Linked DNA regions of Homo sapiens: regions 2, 3 and 4 are each reported to be linked to region 1. The links are microRNA targets in miRTarBase. Many come from high-throughput screens and were not tested one by one. Region 1 holds a microRNA gene; each other region holds the end of a gene's coding sequence.
The links. Region 1 holds the annotated microRNA hsa-miR-4801 (UACACAAGAAAACCAAGGCUCA, at 3,138-3,159, opposite strand). A microRNA usually pairs through its seed, bases 2 to 8, with sites in the 3' UTR of a target mRNA and lowers its output. Matches are read on the target gene's strand: a 7mer-m8 pairs with bases 2 to 8, a 7mer-A1 pairs with bases 2 to 7 and ends in A, and an 8mer does both.

Region 2: miRTarBase lists NMRK1 as a target of hsa-miR-4801. Seed matches in the 3' UTR shown: 7mer-A1 at 764-770 and 7mer-A1 at 1,034-1,040.
Region 3: miRTarBase lists ROBO2 as a target of hsa-miR-4801. Seed matches in the 3' UTR shown: 7mer-A1 at 1,198-1,204, 7mer-A1 at 4,650-4,656 and 7mer-A1 at 4,657-4,663.
Region 4: miRTarBase lists CCDC43 as a target of hsa-miR-4801. Seed matches in the 3' UTR shown: 7mer-A1 at 1,327-1,333 and 7mer-m8 at 1,979-1,985.

What each region holds. Positions count from the first base shown.
Region 1 is chr4:37,238,774-37,244,338 of GRCh38, forward strand. It overlaps MIR4801 (microRNA 4801), which reads right to left and starts at 3,218; the gene lies at 3,137-3,218.
Region 2 is chr9:75,056,383-75,061,947 of GRCh38, reverse strand. It overlaps NMRK1 (nicotinamide riboside kinase 1), which reads left to right. Exons shown (of 9, transcript NM_017881.3): 9 at 381-1,371. The coding sequence ends at 400. Among named protein-coding and RNA genes, the nearest start is that of NMRK1, 29 kb to the left of the region's middle.
Region 3 is chr3:77,645,265-77,650,829 of GRCh38, forward strand. ROBO2 (roundabout guidance receptor 2) reads left to right here. Exons shown (of 28, transcript NM_001395656.1): 28 at 790-4,700. The coding sequence ends at 791. Among named protein-coding and RNA genes, the nearest start is that of LINC02077, 400 kb to the right of the region's middle.
Region 4 is chr17:44,674,565-44,680,129 of GRCh38, reverse strand. CCDC43 (coiled-coil domain containing 43) reads left to right here. Exons shown (of 5, transcript NM_144609.3): 5 at 1,087-2,690. The coding sequence ends at 1,274. It overlaps MEIOC (meiosis specific with coiled-coil domain), which reads right to left. Exons shown (of 8, transcript NM_001145080.3): 8 at 4,329-5,565. LOC105371792 (a long non-coding RNA gene) reads right to left here and starts at 1,166. Exons shown (of 4, transcript XR_007065769.1): 1 at 1,081-1,166.

The DNA.
Region 1 (5,565 bases):
TATGGCTTTCTAAATTTAGGCGATAAGATAATTTACATTTACAAGGGGTAACCCAAGGAGATGCATAGTGCAACTCTATAACTAATTCAGGCTAAAGGATTGTGATGGAGACTCTTATTTGGTGAAGAAATAAATCTTATTAAATAATAAACATAAAGCATAACTATAAGAATGGTGAGAAAAGGAAGATGGCAAAGTCATAGTAGTTTTTCAGAAAGTAGAATCCAAATAAATATATTTAGAGAGACTGTTATAGAATCATCATCTATATTGAATTTTTGCAGAAAATATGCAAATTGCAAAAATATGCAAATAAAAACACTTTATCCCATTAAGGTATTTTGAAAAGAAAAGCAGATTCAAAATACATTCAAGCTTCATACTATTCTAGCTAAGTACAAGCACTTAAAAAATAAGAAAACAATGATTGACCTGGACAATATATTTAAGATATTTGGGCCATGTCAATATAGAGTACTGTAAAGGGAAGATTTCCTTCTTATTCATGTGGATTTAGTGTTACATGATGAAAAGACTCCATCTAGCATAAGGGTGAGATAAATCTGGTTCACATTCTAGCTTTGCCAACTTATTAGCTATCTGAATTTGGACAAGTCATTTAAAGTCTCAGCCTCTTGTACTTATCTACAAGACTGAGTTGTTAGCAGAATTAAAAGATGTGGAAGTTAGCTTCTGCTCAATAAAAATATGAGTCAATGTAAATAGGCAATGTAGCTAACATTGCCATCCAAGTAGAGTGTTTTATACACCATATTATTTGGTTTGCCTACCCACCAGTATAAATTTTATAGAGAAGTGCAAATGATGTTTAATCAATTTGGCTAAATGGATCTTGTTATACGTTGGCAGCCACGTGGTATATTATAAATGATCTATGGCTTCATGTTCGGAGATCTAGTTTTGACATTGGCTCTGCTATCCAGCAACTGAGTGAACCTAAACATGCCACTAAAATCACTCGAGCTTCACATTAAAAATTGGAGAGGAGAGGGAAATAATGTTAATGCAGAACCCATTTTAGAAGGTTAGACTAAAAGTAAATGAGCTAACATGTATGAAAGTGCTTTGTAAAAAGCAACTCTCCAAATAAGTATCAGATGATGAAACAAGCAAGAGGAGGGTTTTGTAAGGTACTGTATTTGAGATTGTCATGAAGGAGAAAAAAAGAAAAACAACCTTGGCAATTACAAAATGAAAATAAAATATTTAATTTAGAAATACAAAATAATCTACAAACTTTTACTTCAAACTTCTTTAACTTTCTTCTACTTTGTGTGGCATGCATAGTGCTCTCATAGCAATGTGTTTAGAAGGTTGTAAGAGGAAGGCTGCTCAAAAAATACATTACGCAGATTTGGAAGGGGGTGGAGGTAAAGTTAGAATTTCTGAGTCATGAAAACATCAGAGCGCTTTCTGAAAGGTGTAACTTTATTTAAAACTGTGCTGCTGTGAATTCTATCATGCCACAGACACCTCTGAATCAACAGTCTCTGTTGGCAAATTGTTATGCTGACAAATTCTCACAAAGACTGAAAATTTCCATTTTGTAAACAAATAAGTGGGTTCCTAATGATCTAGCTTACCACCTAGAACTTTGAAAAGTGGAACCCTGGCTTGAGTGACCCTGAATAATCTATTTCTCACATTAGCAAAGCAGATTCAATTATTTATCACCCAAATCATAGAGCCACTGTATGAATGTAATATTAAGTCTGATACTCTTCTTCAAGCTAGGGAAGCAAGAACAGCACATCACTGACTTCACTGGGTGGAGTCCCTAAAATAGTAAGAGTGGCATGATGTGCTAATGTGGTCTTCTTCATGACACTAGGGGCTCTATTTCACTTCTATCCATAACAGAACAAATTTATTTCATGGAAGAATGATCCACAGGTTTCCTGACCAGGATATTTGATGTACACACATGGGAATGCACCTGCAGGCAAATACAGGTTGGGTGATGGGCACTCTTTCTGCTGGGTCACAGTCAGTCACAGGGACTCTAGTTTTGTGCCTTTTGATCACTACCTCCAGCACCTACGAGGAATGAACTGGACATGTGACATAGCCACGAAGCTGGGGGAAAAATCATCAGCCATCACAGTGAAGGGAAGTAGGTGAGGTACATGTGCATACCATAGACTTCGGAGCAAGCAAAGTGCACATATGTTACAAAAGGTAATGAATGCACATAACAAAAGATATACAGGAACAGTAGTGTCCAAGAAGGGATGTCAGACTTGGAGATAGGAGGTGCTGGGCCCAGACCCTCGATGTAGTGCGATTAAATGAGATGCCTATTAAAAGCCTAACAGCAGGTCAAGAATATGGGAAATCCTCATATATCAGTATTATTAGGAAGTAATTTTCTTTCCACTCATTTAATAAAATTACAATTTGGGCATCACCTACATATTAAAGGGGGTTTCATTTCATGATCACAAGGCTCCTTCTAGCTCAGTGAGTAGAATGAAGCTAGTGGTAATTTTACCTTTGGGCACCCTTGTTTTATAAAGAGCTAGCTCCCATTGTTTTATAAGGATAAGGCACCTGTCTAGCCTACTAATTGGTGGTAGCGTGAGAGGATGGAGAGGGGAATGCTTGTTTTTGATCACAGTCTTGGTCCCAGGCTCATTTTTTCATGTACTTTCACCTTCCCATTTCTAGATGCTTTAAATTCTCCAGCCCATGTCTGGGATGGTACAGATTTACCTGTGGTCTCATGAAGAAAGAGCAGGACCCAAAAGAAACACAGAATCTGGAAGTGTTTGTCATCAGATCAACAACCTAGAAGTTGGAAGAGTCTAGTCCTGTGTGATCATGAAGACAATGATCTTCTTTCCTATCTAGAAAGCAGAAATGATATCCAGCCTTCCACACCTGTGAACACAGGCCTGAGCACCCACTGTCCAGGTTAACAAAGATGTCCTCAAGGGCCAGACCTGAGCAAAATTAGAAAATAGAGGTGGTATGTTGCAAGAAGCACTGGAACAGAAGCTGTGATACCTGGATCCTGGCTCTGCCATTAACTCATTATGTGACCTTGAACAAGTCATTTCACTTGTTTTGAGTCTTGGTTTTGAGTCATTTGACTTGGTTTGAGTCATTTCATTTTTTGAGCCTTGGTTTTCTTGTGTAAAGTGTTTTAAACATAAGAAATGTTATTACATTTTACACATAAGAAAACCAAGCCTCAAAAAAGTTAAATGACTTGTTCAAGGTCACATAACTCATTAATGGTAGAGCCAGGATCCAGGTATCACGGCTCCTGTCATGGTTCAAAAACTCCCAGTATTTATGGACAAGAAGAAAACGTTTAGAAAATATTTTAATCGGATATAAAAAAAACAAAGTTGTCTTGAAAATCAGGGTCAGCCTTCCACAATCATGCCCTCTCCCTCTCATTTGTCTCTCTCTCTCTAATTCTTTCTTTCTGGTTCCTCAGGTTAAGAAATAAATCTAAATAATTTATAATAAAGTGTTATCACCATAGGTGACACCTCCTTTATTGGTATTTGTGTGCTAAGAAATCAATATCTGGTGTTAGGATGTCAGATGCTTGCAAGCTGAAGAATGTGGAAGAAGATTGTTTTTGCATGTACATGCGTGTGTGTGTGTGTGTGTGTGTGTGTGTGTGTGTATGTGTGTGTGTTTTGAGGGAGGTGAGTAATTGGTATCCTTCTTAGGTAGAATACTCCAAAGACAGCAGCCTCTCTAGCTGAGGCAAAGCTGGCTGTGCAAAGAGCCTTTTACAGCGTGGCCCACAGACAATGTGAAATTCTCTCTCCTCTGCAGCCTTGGTCTGCAGTGACACTGGCAGATGCTAAACTTCGGCCTGTCTAGAACAGTTAATTAGGTTATAGAGGCTGCCAAAAATCCCAAAGTCATCCAAAGAAAATGCAACACTTTGAGATCTGAAGCAAAGGTCAGAAGACACAAACACTAATCCTATTTCTGAGAAGAGAGAAACAAACAAAGAAGTAAGAGAAAAAAGAAAGGCAGGAAGGCAGGTCCCTGACAATCTGGCAACTTCTAATCACTCTTTTATAAACAATATTGAGATCAGGCATAAAGTGATCCTAGCTCTTTTCTCCAGTAATAGATACTGTATATTCATACACGATGATATGCAATAAATACCGCATATTCATGACCTTTCCACAGCTCTCAGTCCATACCTCTTGAGACAATAGAGGATCTTTCAGGGACCCCCTTCCTGCTGAGAACATTTCCACCCGAGAATGACTCTGGAGTGAAGAAATTGAATCAATTAAATAACTGGGTATGTTCAAGCCTTCTTTACGGGTTGCATCAAATTATCACAAAGTAAGAACTGCTGCTGTCTGCCCCCTGGTTCTCAGGAGTGGAGAGGCAGCCTTACAAACCTAGAGACCCAATTCTTCCAAAGAGGTTACCCCAGAACGTGTGTGTTGGGGCTGGGGTGGGGTAAAAAAATGAACAGCAGTGCATAGGACTTCACTGCCACCAGCAGGCCCCAGAGGAAGTGCAGGCCCAGAGGAGGCCGGGCTGCTTAGGTTAGGACCATCCAGGCAAGAAGAGAACACTTGCGTCTGAACTGCCTCACCCTGTGCCCGCCCACCCCTTCCCCAATCTCAGAGATTTGGAAAAACTGTTCTTCTTCCCTAAAAGACAGGTGTTCCTGCCCAGAAGCCCAGAATAAGTGATTTATTGACTAAACTGCAATTAAGGCTACAAACACTCCCTTCTCCCTGCGCCGTTGGCCCCCAACACAATTACACTTTATTTTGCGAGGTCTTCGTTCCTGTCCTGGCTTATGCAGTATTTCCATGGGTGCAGTGGAGTGGAAGGGAGACGGCGATTTTACATCTGGGTCCCTCTGCGTCTCATGTCACCTAGGACGTGGACTGGACCCCTGCGCCGTCCACCTTGAGCCCGGAACCCGAGGACGGCCCCGCGTCCTCTGTGGCCGCCCTGGATCAACTTCAGGTGGAGCTGACCTACGCGTTGCACTGACTTTGAAGAGCGGCTGAAGCGCACACAAGAAGCTGCTGCCCACAGCCAGCTCCGATTTCTCGCACCCCGGTCCCAATCCACGGCCACCTGCACTTTGCGTAACGTTGCGCTGGGGGGCGCTCCAGAGAACCCACACCCTCCCGCCCGGCCCAGGTGCGCACCCGGCCGCGCGGGGCTCCAGCAACCTGGCGGCCGACGGGCCCGGGAGCTGTCAGGCGAGCAGAACAGCCGGTGAGTGCGCCTTGATGGGAGCAGAAAGGCCCCTAGGAACCTTGGAGGCCTCGGAGGAACTACCCGCGGAGATCCGCTCCCAGAAAGGTTCCGGGACCACGCGGCGAGGAGCACGTGAACGGCGCAGCTTGGCTATAAAAACCCCGCTCAAGCGCGCGTGGGGAGCAACCGGAGCGGCAGGACGCTGCCACCTGCGCCAGGAGAGATAGGGATGAAGCGATCGTCCCTCCAGGACGCCAGAGACAATCTGGAGACTTGATGCTTTAAACTCTCCGGGTCTGGCTTGGGGTTGTGTGCGTCGAACTTTGAGGCTGGATT
Region 2 (5,565 bases), not on the chromosome of region 1:
TTTAAGAAAAGGGATTAAAGTAACAATACTTTCCCCACATCAAGGATAACACTCCAAAACAAGGATTATACTGCAGACAACTACCCTTTGTGGTTTTATTCTAGTCTTCAAACTATATCATTCTCTGAAGTCAAGGATTACTATACGAACTACAAGTGATATTGGATATCTATCTGATATTTTAAGGTATGCTTCAAATTTAATGCAGGGATTAAAAGAATGGGACTTGGACTCAATTTAGTTCTTTACAGGAAACCAGCATTTTTGGCTCCAGAATCCCTCTAATTTAAACATCCTTAGATTTACTGTTGTTGATGTAAAGATTTAATAAAATGAGAATTGGAATTCTCCATTAATTTCTTTTTATGTTTATTCCCAAGGTTTGCAAGTGACAGCATAAAGACGGAACACAACAAATCCTTCCTGAAGTGAATTAGGAAACTCCAAGGAGTAATTTAAGAACCTTCACCAAGATACAATGTATACTGTGGTACAATGACAGCCATTGTTTCATATGTTTGATTTTTATTGCACATGGTTTTCCCAACATGTGGAACAATAAATATCCATGCCAATGGACAGGACTGTACCTTAGCAAGTTGCTCCCTCTCCAGGGAGCGCATAGATACAGCAGAGCTCACAGTGAGTCAGAAAGTCTCCACTTTCTGAACATAGCTCTATAACAATGATTGTCAAACTTTTCTAACTGGAGCTCAGAGTAAGAAATAAAGATTACATCACAATCCAATATCTGTGGAATTCATTGTGTATGTTTATGTATTTGTGTGTAGGTGTGTATGTGTGTGTGTGATACATACATACATCAAGTATCACAAGACATTGACCTTATATATTATGCACTGTGATGTTTTTCCGTCTTTAATTATAAAAAACATATTGATCACAACCACAATTTGGAAAATGTTGCTCCATACCATCCCATACCAACACTCACCACCTGCAAATAATAGCATTACTAGGAGCTGCAGTCACAATGAATAAATCAACAATTCGCTACAAGATCTAGGATTATTTGTGTATTTTGTTGAGTGTGTGTGTGTGTGTGTGTGTGTGTGTGTGTGTGTGTTGGCGTGTATCTAATACCATTGTATCTCATTGTTGAGACTTTGTTACAAATAGGGTTTCTGGTTTCTTTCTCCCCCCTCGTGGTTCATTTTGTTTTTGTCAAACCAGTGGTCTAAAATCACAGAAATAAGCAATTACTTCAATCATGTGGAATCCAGGGGACCTATCTTTGGAAAGCACAGAAGGAGATCTGAATTGTGTGATCTCTTGAGGCTGCTTTCAATGCTGGAATTTAAATTATGTACTGAACAATCTTTTGCTTATTAATAAAAAGATTACACACAACCATCTCAATCTTTTTTTTATATATACTTTAAGTTCTAGGGTACATGTGTACCATGTGCAGGTTTGATACATAGTTATGCATGTGCCATGTTGGTTTGCTGCACCCATCAACTCATCATTTGCATTAGGTATTTCTCCTAATGCTATCCCTCCCCCAGCCCCCCACCCCCGACAGACCCTGGTGTGTGATGTTCCCAGCCCTGTATCCAAGTGATCTCATTGTTCAATTCCCACCTATGAGTGAGAACATTCAATGTTTGGTTTTCTATCTTTGTGATAGTTTGCTGAGAATGATGGCTTCCAGCTTCATCCATGTCCCTGTAAACGACATGAACTCATCCTTTTTTATGGCTGCATAGTATTCCATTGTGTATATGTGCCACATTTTCTTAATCCAGTCTATCATTGATGGACATTTGGGTTGGTTCCAAGTCTTTACTATTGTGAATAGTGCCGCAATAAGCATAAATGTGCATGTGTCTTTATAGTAGCATGATTTATAATCCTTTGGGTATATACCCAGTAATGGGATCACTGGGTCAAATGGTATTTCTAGTTCTAGATCCTTGAGGAATCACCACACTGTCTTCCACAATGGTTGAACTAGTTTACAGTCCCACCAACAGTGTAAAAGTGTTCCTATTTCTCCATATCCTATCCAGCATCTATTGTTTCCTGACTTTTTAATGATCACCATTCTAACTGGTGTGAGATGGTATCTCATTGTGGTTTTGATTTGCATTTCTCTGATGACCAGTGATAATGAGCATTTTTTCATGTGTCTGTTGGCTACATAGAAGTCTTCTTTTGAGAAGTGTCTGTTCATATCCTTTGCCCACTTTTTGATGGGGTTGTTTGTTTTTCTCTTGTAAATTTGTTTGAGTTCTTTGTAGATTCTGGATATTAGCCCTTTGTCAGATGAGTAGATCGCAAAAATTTTCTCCCATTCTGTAGGTTGCCTGTTCACTCTGATGGTAGTTTCTTTTGCCATGCAGAAGCTCTTTAGTTTAATTAGATCCCATTTGTCTATTTTGGCTTTTGTTGCCATTGCTTTTGATGTTTTAGTCATGAAGTCCTTGCCCATGCTTATGTCCTGAATGGTATTGCCTAGGTTTTCTTCTAGGATTTTTGTGGTTTTAGGTCTAACATTTAAGTCTTTAATCCATCTTGAATTAATTTTTGTATAAGGTGTAAGGAAGAGGTCTAGTTTCAGCATTCTACATATGGCTAGCCACTTTTCCTGGCACCATTTATAAATGGGGAATCCTTTCCCCATTGCTTGTTTTTGTCAGGTTTGTCAAAGATCAGATGGTTGTAGATGTGTGGTGTTATTTCTGAGGCCTCTGTTTTGTTCCATTGGTCTATATATCTGTTTTGGTACCAGTACCATGCTGTTTTGGTTACTGTAGCTTTGTAGAATAGTTTGAAGTCAGGTGGCGTGCTGCCTCCAGCTTTTTTCCTTTTGCTTAGGATTGTCTTGGCGATGCGGGCTCTTTTTTGGTTCCATATGAACTTTAAAGTAGTTTTTTCCAATTCTGTGAAGAAAGTCATTGGTAGCTTAATGGGGATAGCATTGAATCTATAAATTATCTTGGGCAGTATGGCCATTTTCACTATATTGATTCTTCCTATCAATGAGCATGGAATGTTCTTCCATTTGTTTGTGTCCTCTTTTATTTTGTTAAGCAGTGGTTTGTAGTTCTCCTTGAAGAGGTCCTTCACATCCCTTGTAAGTTGGATTCCTAGGTATTTTATTCTCTTTGAAGCAAGTGTGAATGGGAGTTCACACATGATTTGGCTCTCTGTTTGTCATTGGTGTATAGGAATGCTTGTGATTTTTGCACATTGATTTTATATCCTGAGACTTTGCTGAAGTTTCTTAACAGCTTAAGGAGATTTTGGGCTGAGACAATGGGGTTTTCTAAGTATACAGTCATGTCATCTGCAAACAGGGACAATTTGACTTCCTCGTTTTCTAATCGAATATCCTTTATTTCTTTCTCTTGCCTGATTGCCCTGGCCAGAACTTCCAACACTATGTTGAATAGGAGTGGTGAGAGAGGGCATCCTTGTCTTGTGCAGGTATTCAAAGGGAATGCTTCCAGTTTTTGCCCATTCAGTATGATATTGGCTGTGGGTTTGTCATAAATAGCTCTTATTATGTTGAGATACATTCCATCAATACCTAGTTTATTGAGAGTTTTTAGCATGAAGGGCTGTTGAATTTTGTCGAAGGCCTTTTCTGCATCTATTGAGATAATCATGTGGTTTTTGTCATTGGTTGTGTTTATGTGATGGATTACGTTCATTGATTTGCATATGTTGAACCAGCCTTGCATCCCAGGGATGTAGCCAACTTTGAGACAGTCTCACTCTGTTGCCAGGCTGGAGTGCAGTGGTGCGATCTCGGTCACCGCAGTCTCGGCCTCCCGGGTTCAAGCGATTCTCCCACCTCAGCCTCCTGAGTAGCTGGAACTACAGGCGCATGCTACCATGCCCAGTTAGTCTTTGCATTTTTGGTAGAGACAGGGTTTCAGGATAGTCTTGATCTCCTGACCTAGTGATCCGCCAGCCTTGGCCTCCCAAAGTGCTGGAATTAGAGGCGTGAGCCACCATGCCCAGCCAACTTTCTCAATCTTTAAAATATATTGTTACATTAACCATTCTCTACAGACTCAGTCAACTCTCATTATTTCTTTATTTCTAACTAGCTTGCACTCACTTGGTGATGACCAGACAGTTCTTTGGATCCCACACACTACAAAAAATACAAACAAAAACAAAACCCAGGCTCAAATTATAGTTCATCCACTCAGTAGCTATGAGTTCAATCAAGCTATTTAAAGTTTTGGTTTTCTCTTTTTAAGATAAGGGATATCAACAGTATTTAGAATGGGTGTAGGGTAGAATAAGGATAAAGTTCAAATATTTTAATGTGGCATCCAAGGCTTTCTCTGATCTGGCTTCTGTGTACCTCTCTATCCTCATTTCCCATCAGAATTGGGTCATATAGTCACTTCTCCCTGCAAGGGAGGCTGGGAAGATGTCATGATAGTTTCAGACCAATTGTGACTCTGCCTTGGGATGTTGCCACTGATCAACATCAAGGATCTTTTAGTGAGGAAATAGGAAAGCCACTGAAGATGCCTACCACGGCCTTTTTCTGCATAACTTCCCTGGCCATGATTTTATCAAGTTTGGGTTGCTGTAATTTGTGTTATTAATACATTAGGAGAATTTTGTTTTATTTTATTAGGATAAAAATAGAGTATAGATATGATTATTAAACTTCACTTCTAAGAATTTCTGAGATGCCCTCTTCTCCCCCTTCCCACTGCAGAGGCACGGCCCTGCTAATTGAGAATCATCAGTTTTCTCCCCATTTCAGCATATGAAGGTCAGAGAAAATATATCTTGCGAGAAAAAAATGCATCAAAAAGGAAAACATTCCAGTAATTTTGGGAAGAAATAAGTATATTTTTGCTCACTAGTATCAGTGAGAAATAAATAGGAATTTGAAATAAGAATACCAGTGCTTCATTTCTGTATGCACTGATTCACATTACAGTTACTCTTTATTACAGGAGTTAATGGTGGTACTGTTATCTATTTAGAAAGATACAATACATATTTGACAAGGAGCACATGTGCTGAAGTCTTCACTTTCTGTGCATAAATAACCCCAGTCCCTTTAAGATGAGTTTGCTGTAGGAAGGCTTCATTGTGTTTAGTATTAAATTAAACATGAGTTCGATTTCAAAGGTTTGAAAGATGCACAGACCATTACACTAAAGGATGAGATTCAAGCCAAATGGTTTATCTTTTAAGTATATGCTTGTGATATATGACAGTCACAAAATGTTGAGGTATTAGTCCAACACTATATCTTAGTATTGAAATTGAAACTAAAGCTGTCCAACACCATGCAACTACCTGGTGACAGGACAAGTCCACAATCCTGACATCATACAAGCATGCACACATACATTTTTCATTTTAGACAAAGTGCCGAGACCAGCTCGGTCAGGGAGACCCTAACCCAGCGGTGCTAGAGGAATTAAAGACACACATATAGAAATATAGAGGTGTGCAGTGGGAAATCAGAGGTCTCACAGCCTTCAGAGCTGAGAGCCACGAACAGGAATTTACCCACGTATTTATTAACAGCAAGCCAGTCATCAGCATTGTTCATAT
Region 3 (5,565 bases), not on the chromosome of region 1:
AACTCCTAAGGAATGCTTCATTTTCAAGTTACTCTATATTTATTTTTTAAATTTGGGTAGTCACCCTTGAAGAGTTGATCTTTGATTGTTAATTAAATTGTAATGTTTTGACTACAATAACATTTTATAAATAAATTTCCATTTATGAATGAAAACTGGCATAGGTAGTTAGTACAATTAATTTTCTAAATGTAAAATACTAGGTAATAGGGAAAATTAAGAATGTCACAGCAAAAAATGTTGAACTCCTTGTGTTAATTTCCTCAGGAAAGTTACCAATACAGCTTTGCATTATCAGAAACATATTTGCTGAATATTTTTAACTGCCTCATCAGAAAAATAGCATTACCATTATCTTCACATCACAGATTGTTTGGAAGATTCTGTGAGATGATGAAAAGAGAAATAATTTCAAAATTATAAATTTCTTTATTGATCTCAGTTGTCATTGTTGTTGACTATTGCTAATCTATTATTAAGATTCATTTATAATTTTAATTTGATTCATAACTACTTGAATTTTTCTTTAACTTTTTTTTGAAGTAATGACAGACTCACAGGAGTACCAAAATAGTTCTACTGGGTGTTTACATTTCCAAATTCTATAGTGTTTTCTTTCCTTTTACTCTTTGATCATCTCCTTCAAGTAAAATTACTTAAATTCACAAACTCATCTATCTGAAGACCTTATTTTCATTGATTATCTGTTGGCTTTGCTTTTTGTTATGCTGGTCAGAAAAGCAGAATGCTTAATTTATATTTTATTTCTACTTTTTTCTCTTTCTTTAGAGTAAATGAGAGGAGACATACAAAGCTGCTCTGAAGGACCATCAGGTCCGGACTCATGGAAGTGATGACTCTAAACAGTGCAATGAACAATTTATTTATGTACTATTAAAAGAACTGTAAATGCAATGTAAAGACACACAGCCACACATATCCCACAGATATTTTCATTGTGTTCTTCTCTTAAGTACACCACCCACCTTAACTCTTTCTTGTCAGGAGTATATAAAAAAGAAAGAAAACAAAACTCGCCCTACAGGAAGAAAAGGATTCTCCTCTGTATATAATTTCTTTTGTGCATTGCTATGCAAGCTCACTCTTTTTAGCTCTGCTCATATTATTGTCTGTTCTTATTGGTCTGTTGTACTATATGTGAATTAATAGGCTGTGGTGCCATATATTAACTTTTAATTGTGTAACTTTTATGTTTAAATTTTGCACTGCAATTTTATTTGGTGATAAGCACAAATCTCTACTCCTCATGACATGAAGAAAAAGACTGAATGTGAAGGGAGTTTCTGTACTGTAAGCTAGATTGGATAATGATGGCTGTAACAAATCATGTTAGATGGTTTTCAGTTGGGGTGTAGAAATAGGAAGATGCAAAGGAACAATGGTGTTGGCAAAGTCTTCTTTGAATATCAGGGACTGAGTCAATAAAAAAAATAGTAGAAAGGTGGCTTTTACTATTGACAAAAGCCGGGGTCAAAAAAAGTAGTTTAAGTCTTAAGACTGAATATGCATTAAAGTATGCAGGTAGCAAAGATGTAATAAATTTGCTTAAAAAAAGAAATTAAAGTTTTATTTAGAATCAATTTTACCTGTCATTGTAATTGACCCATCTGAGAATTACAATAAGCAAGAGGAAATTAAGGTGTTTTGCAAGAGCTGTATTTATATTACAGTTTTTTAAAAACATTTTCTGAATTATCGTAATTAAGCTCTCCAACTCGTTAAGTCAGAATATAATATGAAGTTCCCCAAGGAAACGAACAAAATGAACTCTAGAATATCTAGCAAATAGTTAAAGAAGCAATTTATTATTAGGGCATACTCGGGCTGTTTCCAAATATAAACTCTATTGCAATATCTTATTTCATCTTTCTAATACATGTACAGTGCACACTAGAGGATAGAGCTGCATCACTTAAATTCATGACTTAAAAAATAATACAGTTTATATACAACTTGTTTTTTATTTGATTAAGAAGTGAAGTTTACGCCACCCAATGTATAGCCAAATTGTACGTGCTTAAAAAACAGTGCCGAGAGTATGTTCAGTTCGCAGTAAGTAGATTTATTGGAATAAATATTCTATGGTACATTCTCAGAAATTGGCTTCCAACTAAAATACGTTTGACCCATTTTGAATAAGGAAATTGAAAAGAAAAATTTAAAAGGAGAAAAAAATGCATGTTTATAAACTTTTTAAATAAAACCAGACCTTGTAAGTGGACATTAATAATTGTCCTGCCTCATTTGTTTTCACGACTTTGACAACAAGAAGTTCCTGAACATTAGTCATGTATGCTCAGAATAAATGTGACTTTGAAATATATGTTAGCTACTGTACATGTATAGTCAGTCAAGTAGAAGAGGACCTTCCTGAAATTCCCACTTGTGACATTTTCCCATGGGTTTCCTACACAATCTTAAATTTTATTTCTGTCTATACTTTCTCAAATTTTTCCTATGATAAGTTCAGTTGTTGGTACTCTTCTAAAAATATTCAACGTGATTAGGATCAGTTCTAAAATACGGGACCCCTTTGAGTGACAATTCGCACTCCATGCATTATTGGCTCAGTAGCCAATTTTTGTCACGTCGTTATAACAAGGAGATGACATAATTAAACATTTCCATCCTTTCTATTCCCTGAGACTGCATCAGCACAGGCAAGTATAGAATGTAATGTTCTTCATGGGCCCCACCAGCTTTTTGGTGCCATGTAATTTATTTCTTCGCTGAAGAGAAAAAGAATTCTGAGACACAGTTATTAAACCCTTTATCAACTTTCTACCATCAGTGCCTGAATTCTAATGCAGTGTGATTTCTCTGGGACAAAGAGACTGAGGAAGATGAAAAGTTTCTTCAAAGAGTGAATACATACTTATTCACAACTCTAGGATGTGAGGACTTTAAATATCTCTTTATGAAGTTCCCTGCCTAACCTCTTTCTATTTAAAGGCAAACAAATTTCGAAGAGGTTTTGTGTTCCCTCTTTATGTTTCTCTATGACCCAGTTTAGTCTAAAACCTTAGTTCATTACATATACAACACATAGCCTTTGATCCCTGGTAACTGGCAGGTGTTGGTGATTAATAAACCAAGGCTTCAAAGTGAAGTATGTGTGTGCAGATGACTTTTGGAATAACGTGGGCATAGCATCATACCTTCCTGATTGTCTTCAGCATATAAAAATTAACTGTTGTAGTTAAAATTATGTCAGTGCAGAGCTTGTGGTTACTTGGAATGTTCTTTCAGAATAGTCCATGTTGCCTATTAAACCTAGTTTTAAACACATTGGGCAGTCAATTTATGCACCCAAAATATCACCCTCAGGTAGATTGAGGGCAAGATAAAATGCTGTATGTAGCTATACAAAGGAATTCAGAAACATTACTGGAAAGCAAAGCCTTTGTCAGCTTGCTACTGACAAAGTAGTAAAAAGCTACTAATCAGTGTTGAGTCAGATGTCAACAGAAAAATACAAATACCTATGAGAGCCACAGCAGTTTCTCGTTTCATAGCCGATTCAATGAATATGATTAGAAATTCACTGAGCTCACTCTTGCAGGTTTAAATGGAGGCCTGCATAAGGACTGCAAGAGGAAATCTGGGTGGGAGAGAATGTAATCTGATCTTGCACTCATAGGCAATGCTGCAATGCAATCATGTCCAATACAAGCACAGCTTCATTCATAACAGGAAACGTCTTCTTTGGGAAAATAGCTCTATTGGTGCCCAAACTCAGGTATGCCAGTGTATGCAGGTGGAGTCGCCCTACCCCTCTTCCAAACATGTCCTGTGAGATTTTTAAAATAAGATGGGATAGTACAGGGGCATGAAAAGAATTGATTCCTTCACAGGATTTGAATCCAGTTCAAGGGAGAATGTAGAAAATTCAAAACCAACATATAAGGTATCACACAACCAAGAAAAGTAAAACCATTGCAAGTTTACTTGCGTTGAGTACAAAACAGATTTAATGGTGTTCTATGTCATAGTTTAATGCTCTGGGTATTTAAATATGTTTTCAACAGGATTTGAGTTGAAAGTTTGTAATGTGCTTTGATGGAACACCTCTCAATTTCTATTCAATAAACTTATGTAATTGTCCATTGACAATATAATGATAACAGTACCATTGAACTCTAAACTGTGGTTTATCTTCACTACTGGGAAGCAACTGTGCATCAGTATTAAAGATATGCAGAAACATAATATTCACTAATTTGTTCATCTGCTTCTGTATATTGTTTATGGAATTACATGGCAAGAACTGTTCTAAAGCAACATGTCTTTCCACATTATTTTAGAGGTGAAATTACTTTTGTTTTGCTTCTCTATAATGTGTACTTCAAATGAAACACCATACTTTTTTCTAAAAAAAGATGTTCAATTTACTAATTTTTTTAAATCTCATAATTTAAAAAGCATTTGTTGTGATTTTAAAGTGTTGCAAGAAAAGGGATTTTGTGGCCGTGGGTAGACTTTTTATACTTTGTTTTATAGATGGATTTTTTTTAACTGTAGTTTGTTTAAGTCACCAAGCAGCATCCAAAATCTTAATGTGTTTCATTTGATGTTGTTAGATCAGAGAAGAAATTGGCATAAAATCGGTTAATAGTATTGTCAAAGAATTGTGTATTGTGTACTCACTGGGAAAAAATAAAATATATTCACATTTCAAATTTGTAGAAAAGCCATTTATGTAAAACAAACCTGTTTGTAGACATGCTAAAAAAAGACCAGGTAGCCACTTTTAGAACTCTGCATTAATATTTTGTGACTAAATGCATAATCTCAGTTTTCTCACTCAGTTATGGTTTGAATAGTGATAAATAGGAACTGGTGTTGACTTTTAGTAGTGACTAACAGACGCTGATAAAGAATACAGCAAGCATTTGAAATACAGACCCCATTCTATCAGCACTGCTACTTTCCCCATACCATGAAGACCTTTAGATAGATTTAAAACAAATATCTTATTTTTGAAAGTATAAGTAAATATGAAAATTGAGAGAAAATGAATTTTTCTCAATTGCTTTAGAAGAAATAATTATGAATTTCTTTTATTTTGGATGTTTTTATACTGGATGTTGAAAAGTTATCTCAGGGACTGAGTAGAAAAGAAAAATGCCCCATTTTATTATATTTCATAAATATTGCATTCTTTTTCACTGCTAAGTACAACTATAGGCTCAATTTTTTTTTCCAAAAATAAAGAGAGGCAGTTTCTGTATTCTTTAAAATAATAATACTAGTGACAGAAAAAAGGAAAAAGATTATGGTTAAATCCTGAGACACTCATTGAAAAATATTTTTAAAAATACAAGGTTTAGGACAACACATTTTAGAGTTTCATTTAATTTATATTAATAAGGTGAGAATAAAATAATATTACTGTAATGACAAATGATGTTGCATTAATATAATACAGTGACAAAATATAATATATATGATTAAAGACAAAGTATGTCAATATGATAAATGGTAGGACAATTACAAAAACAACTGTTCCTTTATGGAATTTGTGTATAAAATGGCAAAAGTGTA
Region 4 (5,565 bases), not on the chromosome of region 1:
TGCCTATAGTCATAGTCCCAGATACTCAGGAGGCTGAGGTGGGAGAATCACCTGAGCCCAGGAAGTCAAGGCTGCAGTGAGCCGAGATCTTGCCACTGCACTCTGGCCTGGGATATGAGAGTGAGACTGTGTCTCAAAAAATAATAAAATAATGTTGAAATTTTCTCTTTTTCCTCAAAAACCTTATAATTTGTCAGAGAATACAAACACCAAACACTTTTTTTTTTCTTTTTTTTGGGACAGAGTCTCGCTCTGTTGCCCAGGCTGGAGTGCAGTGGTGCGATCTCGGCTCACTGCAGCCTCCGCCTCCTGGGTTAAAGTGATTCTCCTGCCTTAGCCTCCCGAGTAGCTGGGACTACAGGTGTGTGTGCCACCATGCCCGGCTAATTTTTTGTATTTTTAGTAGAGACGGGGTTTCACCTGTTAGCCAGGATGGTCTCGATCTCCTGACCTCATGATCTACCTGCCTCAGTCTCCCAAGTGCTGGGATTACAGGCATGAGCCACTGCGCCCAGCCTAAACTCATTTTCTATCTCTTATAGATTCAGTGTGTATGGTTATTAGAATGTGGTTTTCACTTCAGCTTTAGTAGTCTAGGAACAAAAGCAAATTGATAAAGTTTAATAAGGTTAAACATCTTATTTAACTCTTTTAAGGCATTTTAACAGAGCCAAGTACATAAACATTTAGTCAGTTACATTACTACTCTGTTCACCAAAACTAGCCTAGATTCTCTAATATTCTGCCATTGAATGATATAAGTACTTATTCTAGAATGAAATTTCATTTTGATGAAATATTTTGTTTTCTTATTTTTTTGTTTCTTTGGTAAAATATTTTAAAATTCAGATTTAGGTAAATCTGAATAAGAGTTTTATTCCAAAGGACATTTTAAAACTTTTGTAATATAGCTTTAGGATTTCTCTGTTAGACCAAGGATAAACATAAGGGTTTTTTTTAAAAAACCAGGAATAGATAAAGACGATTCAGGACTCAGCAGGTGGAGAGAGGATAAGTAGAATGAGGAAAGGCAGCAGTAGGTGTGATCTGTGTGACCTGTACCCTAATCCCTTAACTCACCTGTAGTTCTGTTCCGAAACACCAATGTGGAAGATGTCCTTAATGCCCGAAAACTGGAGCGAGACTCACTTCGGGATGAATCCCAAAGGAAGAAGGAACAGGACAAGCTGCAGAGGGAGAGAGACAAACTAGCCAAGCAGGAGCGCAAGGAAAAGGAAAAAAAAAGGACACAGAGAGGGGAGCGAAAGCGATAACCTTGGCCTACTCTATTCTTTCCCCCCATGAACTTATCAAAGGGAGAACTGGTTGTGTATTTAAGAGAAATGAGAGTGCATTGCAAAGTAGTTTCCCAAGGCATTTCCCCTATTGTTTACATGGTCAAAAGGAAAATCAAAATCACTTCTAATTACAAAATGTGCTGTTTTGGTGGGGTGGGCAATCAGATTATTATAGTTGATGACTGTACCAAAGATCTGGAATGGGGGCCACCTTTATATTTTAATACTCAAGTCCTGTGCTCCTTTTGGCCACTTTAAAAAGTCTTCCCTCACCTTGGATAAATAGGATTCAGAAAGCTAACAGTTTTCATTCTGAAGGAGCAGAAACATAATCAATCCCTCCCTGAGATAAAATGTGGGCATGCACATTGCTTTGGAGTCAGTATTCAGCTGTAAGTGTAGTATTGTTTTATGGCTGAAATAGAAAGCTAATGAAGAGGCCTACCTGGATCCAGATTTTATGTTAACATGGCAGCAAAACTAGGAAAATGGGAAGAAATTACTTGCGGGGTGTTCTAGATCTGATTTTTTTTTTTTTTTTGAAAGTTTCAGCCTGTGGGAGGAAAAGAGGTATCTTTTAAAATAGAGATAGTTACATATTTTCCTCATCTAGGCTGTGTCACTATTGGGTGCAAGGATATCATTGTTGGCTAGATTCATTTTGTATAATCATGTATCCTCTTGTGTGCTGGTAGAGATTTTAATCCTGATTTTTCCATAAAACATGAGTATTAAGAAATAATTCCTGGTTTGGAGAAACTGGAGAAATCACCCTTTTAAGGAAGAAACACTGGAAATTTCTGCTAACACCAAGATATTTAAGAGTGTACATAGTAGGTGCTCAACAAATTTATTGAATGAATGAGTGAATGGAAAAACTGGGAGAGTCAAAAGTGAGCAGAAGCTCTCCATTTCTACTTCTGTCACAAACCACATTAAATTGTAAATAAGGCCCTTCTCCACTTGACTTCAGGCAGCAGATTGTCTAGAAGCCTAAGGACAGCAATTTCTCTGACAAGACAAAGTAGATATTTTATACCAGGGGTTGGCAAACTACTGCCCACGGGCCGAATTTGGCCCAGTCTGTTTTTGTATGGTGCAAACTAAAAATGATTTTTACATTTTTAAAGAGTTATAAAAGAAAAAAATATGTGGTCTGTGAAATCTAAAATATTTACTACCTGGCCTGTTGGAGGAAAGGTTTGCCAATCTCTGTTTTATACCATTAACTATGAGATTAACAAAAACTTTTACCTTTGTGCAGAAGGTTAAAAAAAAAAAAACATGGTTAAGGAAAAGGAGACATGTTACCTCTTCATACACTCCTATAACTGTGGCATTGCAAAAAATAAAAATAACCACCTTTAAAAAAATAAATCTTATTTAAATTGCTGTCTTCTGACTTATTTTGATTGCTTCTACGTACCCATGGAAATGAAATATGTGTGAGTAGTTACTTAGGAATGTGTTGATTTTTATTTTATGCTTTGTTTTGATTAGCCCTATAACTTATATTCCACTAGTGGAAGCTCTTCCTGGAATCCATAAATCCTCTTTCTCAATTTTCCTTTTTGTGAAGTAGGAATTAGATCAGAAAGATTAGCATGTTTTTTGGAACATCAGGAAATTGGCTTAGAGGTCCTTACTATTACAGTCTTAGTCCTTTATGTGGTGGTAGCGATAGGGTATGATAGAGCCTATTTTAATTTAGTAATCCTTATTTTGGGATTTTGGGTTGTTCTCACCTTGATTTTTGTCACTGAAGGAGTCAGGTTATATCCACGGTCCCCTGAAGGGTACTTGTTTCAATTTGTTAGTAGTCAGTTCTTTCTTCTGGGACTCTGCTATGTATGTCACAGTTAAGTATACTCTCAAACTAATGCTTAAACAGAAAATAGAGGATCAGCTCATTAGGCTTTGAGTTTAGTTATCCACTTGACTCAGGTGCTAATAAATCCTTTACGTCTAAAATGTTCAGTATTGCAAAGGGCATATTTTTTTTGTTTGTTTTTTGAAACGGATCACTCTGTCACCCAGGCTGGAGTGCAGTGGCGCCATGTTGGCTCACTGCAACCTCCACCTTGCGGGTTCAAGTGATTCTCCTGCCTCCCCCTCCCAAGTAGCTGAGACTACAGGCGAGTGCCACCACACCCAGCTAATTTTTTGTATTTTTAGTAGAGATGGGGTTTCACCGTGTTAGCCAGGATGGTCTCGATCTCCTGACCTCGTGATCCACCCGCCTCAGCCTCCCAAAGTGCTGGGATTACAGGCGTGATCCACCGGCACCCAGCTGCAAAGGGCAAATTTTAAACAACCATATCTTCTATGGTAAGATTGAGTTTTAGGCCAGATTTTGGATTTCAGTCATAAATTCTCAACCCTCTAAAACTTTATAGTAGCAGATTATTCAAGTGAGAAGGACACTGATAACAACTCAAGGTAATTTTGCTTTTTCCATTAAAAAGAATGAGTACACCAAGTTCTTTCAGATTAGAAATGGCGGGAGCATCAGTTTTATCAGTTTCACTGCAAATTTTGTAAAAGTTTTATAATGTTTTCATAGGTTGTAATTCAGAAGTACAATGTTTTATAGGTTGTAATTCAGAAATACAAGTACATAAGAACCATCTGTTAGAGGATATGCCACTGAAAGGGACAACCGACTAATTTAAAAATTATCTATTGGGTGATATGATTAACAATATTTCAAAGAATTTTTTTAAGTGTTTGGTTCTTATTAACGGACTGGTATTTCATTTCTGACCAGTATCATGTAAAAGCTTCCCTAAAATTTTTATTCTGGTTTACACGGATTAGCATAAAGATAGAGCAAAAATTTCATCTTTGAAGGAGATCTGGTTAGATCCATGGATATCTGAATGGCATTGATTTATAAACCAACATTATTACTTGTGCGTTAATAATGAAATCTAAAACTTAGTATAAGTTCTTAAATGAAATTCATTTGACTTTCTGATATGAGTGACTCTTAAGGTTAGAAACATATGAATTTAGAAAAATGAAACCAAATGTTTTCAACAAAGTAATTTATTTTTTTCCTGAGACTAAATTCAGTACAGTATTTGTTTTTATAACATCCAACATGTCTTATGTTAAACTTAACCACTTTCTATGCAGTGACTGTGGTGAGATGATCTATTTTATTTGACTACCCTCAATGTAATTCATTTGGGTAGTTCTAAGGCATATCAGTGATCAAAATGTTTCTCCCTACAGTTACTCTTGCATTCTCAATCAGTTTCTTCTGCACATCATCTAAAGAAAATTTATGTGGTATGATTACACTCTTTTTTTTTTTAATACCAGAATTTCTAAAACTAAGAAAAACACTAACATTTAAAACATCAGTGTTTCTAGTCAAGGATATTTCAATTAAATTTCATCAGTACATTATAGTTTAACTCATGCTAGAAATGTTAAAACCCAAGATCTTCTGAGTCACATAATACCAACATTTCATATTAACGAATAAATTACTCAAGTTCTATACAAAGATACTAAGTGATGAGAAACAGAAAAAGTTAAGCTTTCAATAGTTTTAAAAAAATACAGAAGCAAACTAATGAACACAACTACGCAAAATATAGGCTAACCAATTGCAAGCTAAACTAGTTAGAGATTAACCTTTAAAAAATACATTTTAGAACTTAGAAGCAAACTAATGAACACAACTACACAAAATATACACTAACCAATTGCAAGCTAAACTAGTTAGAGATTAACCTTTAAAAAAATACATTTTAGAACTTCGTGACACCCTCATAAAAGGCAGCAAACTAAGGGTATTAAAACAGTAGTCATTATTTCAGTTACTGTGCATCAAGTCTAAAAGATCCAGATAAAGGGAATGTTTTGTGATTCAATTTAAATAACTTTAAAATTGGAAACATTTAACAATTGATAATATAATTAAAATTTAAAGAATATACACAAATGATCTGAATAGGTTTTATATTCAGTAACTTGCATGGTTTTTACACTGACACTTTTATCATTAATTTAGGAGAATCAGATGCATTTCCCTCCATATACCTAGGCATTAAGATTCCAAATTTATAAATATGGTAGTATAGTATTTTAAATATTAAGTTTGTACATGAATATTGGGTTTATCCGTATTTTCCTTTGTTTCCCAGGTATTATCCAGTTTTGTAAGGAAAACACTTTGATATCACAATCAAAACTTGTCTTGGTTACTAGGCTGTAGCCGTAATTGGGTTACAGTCACTTAGATTCATTATTTGGA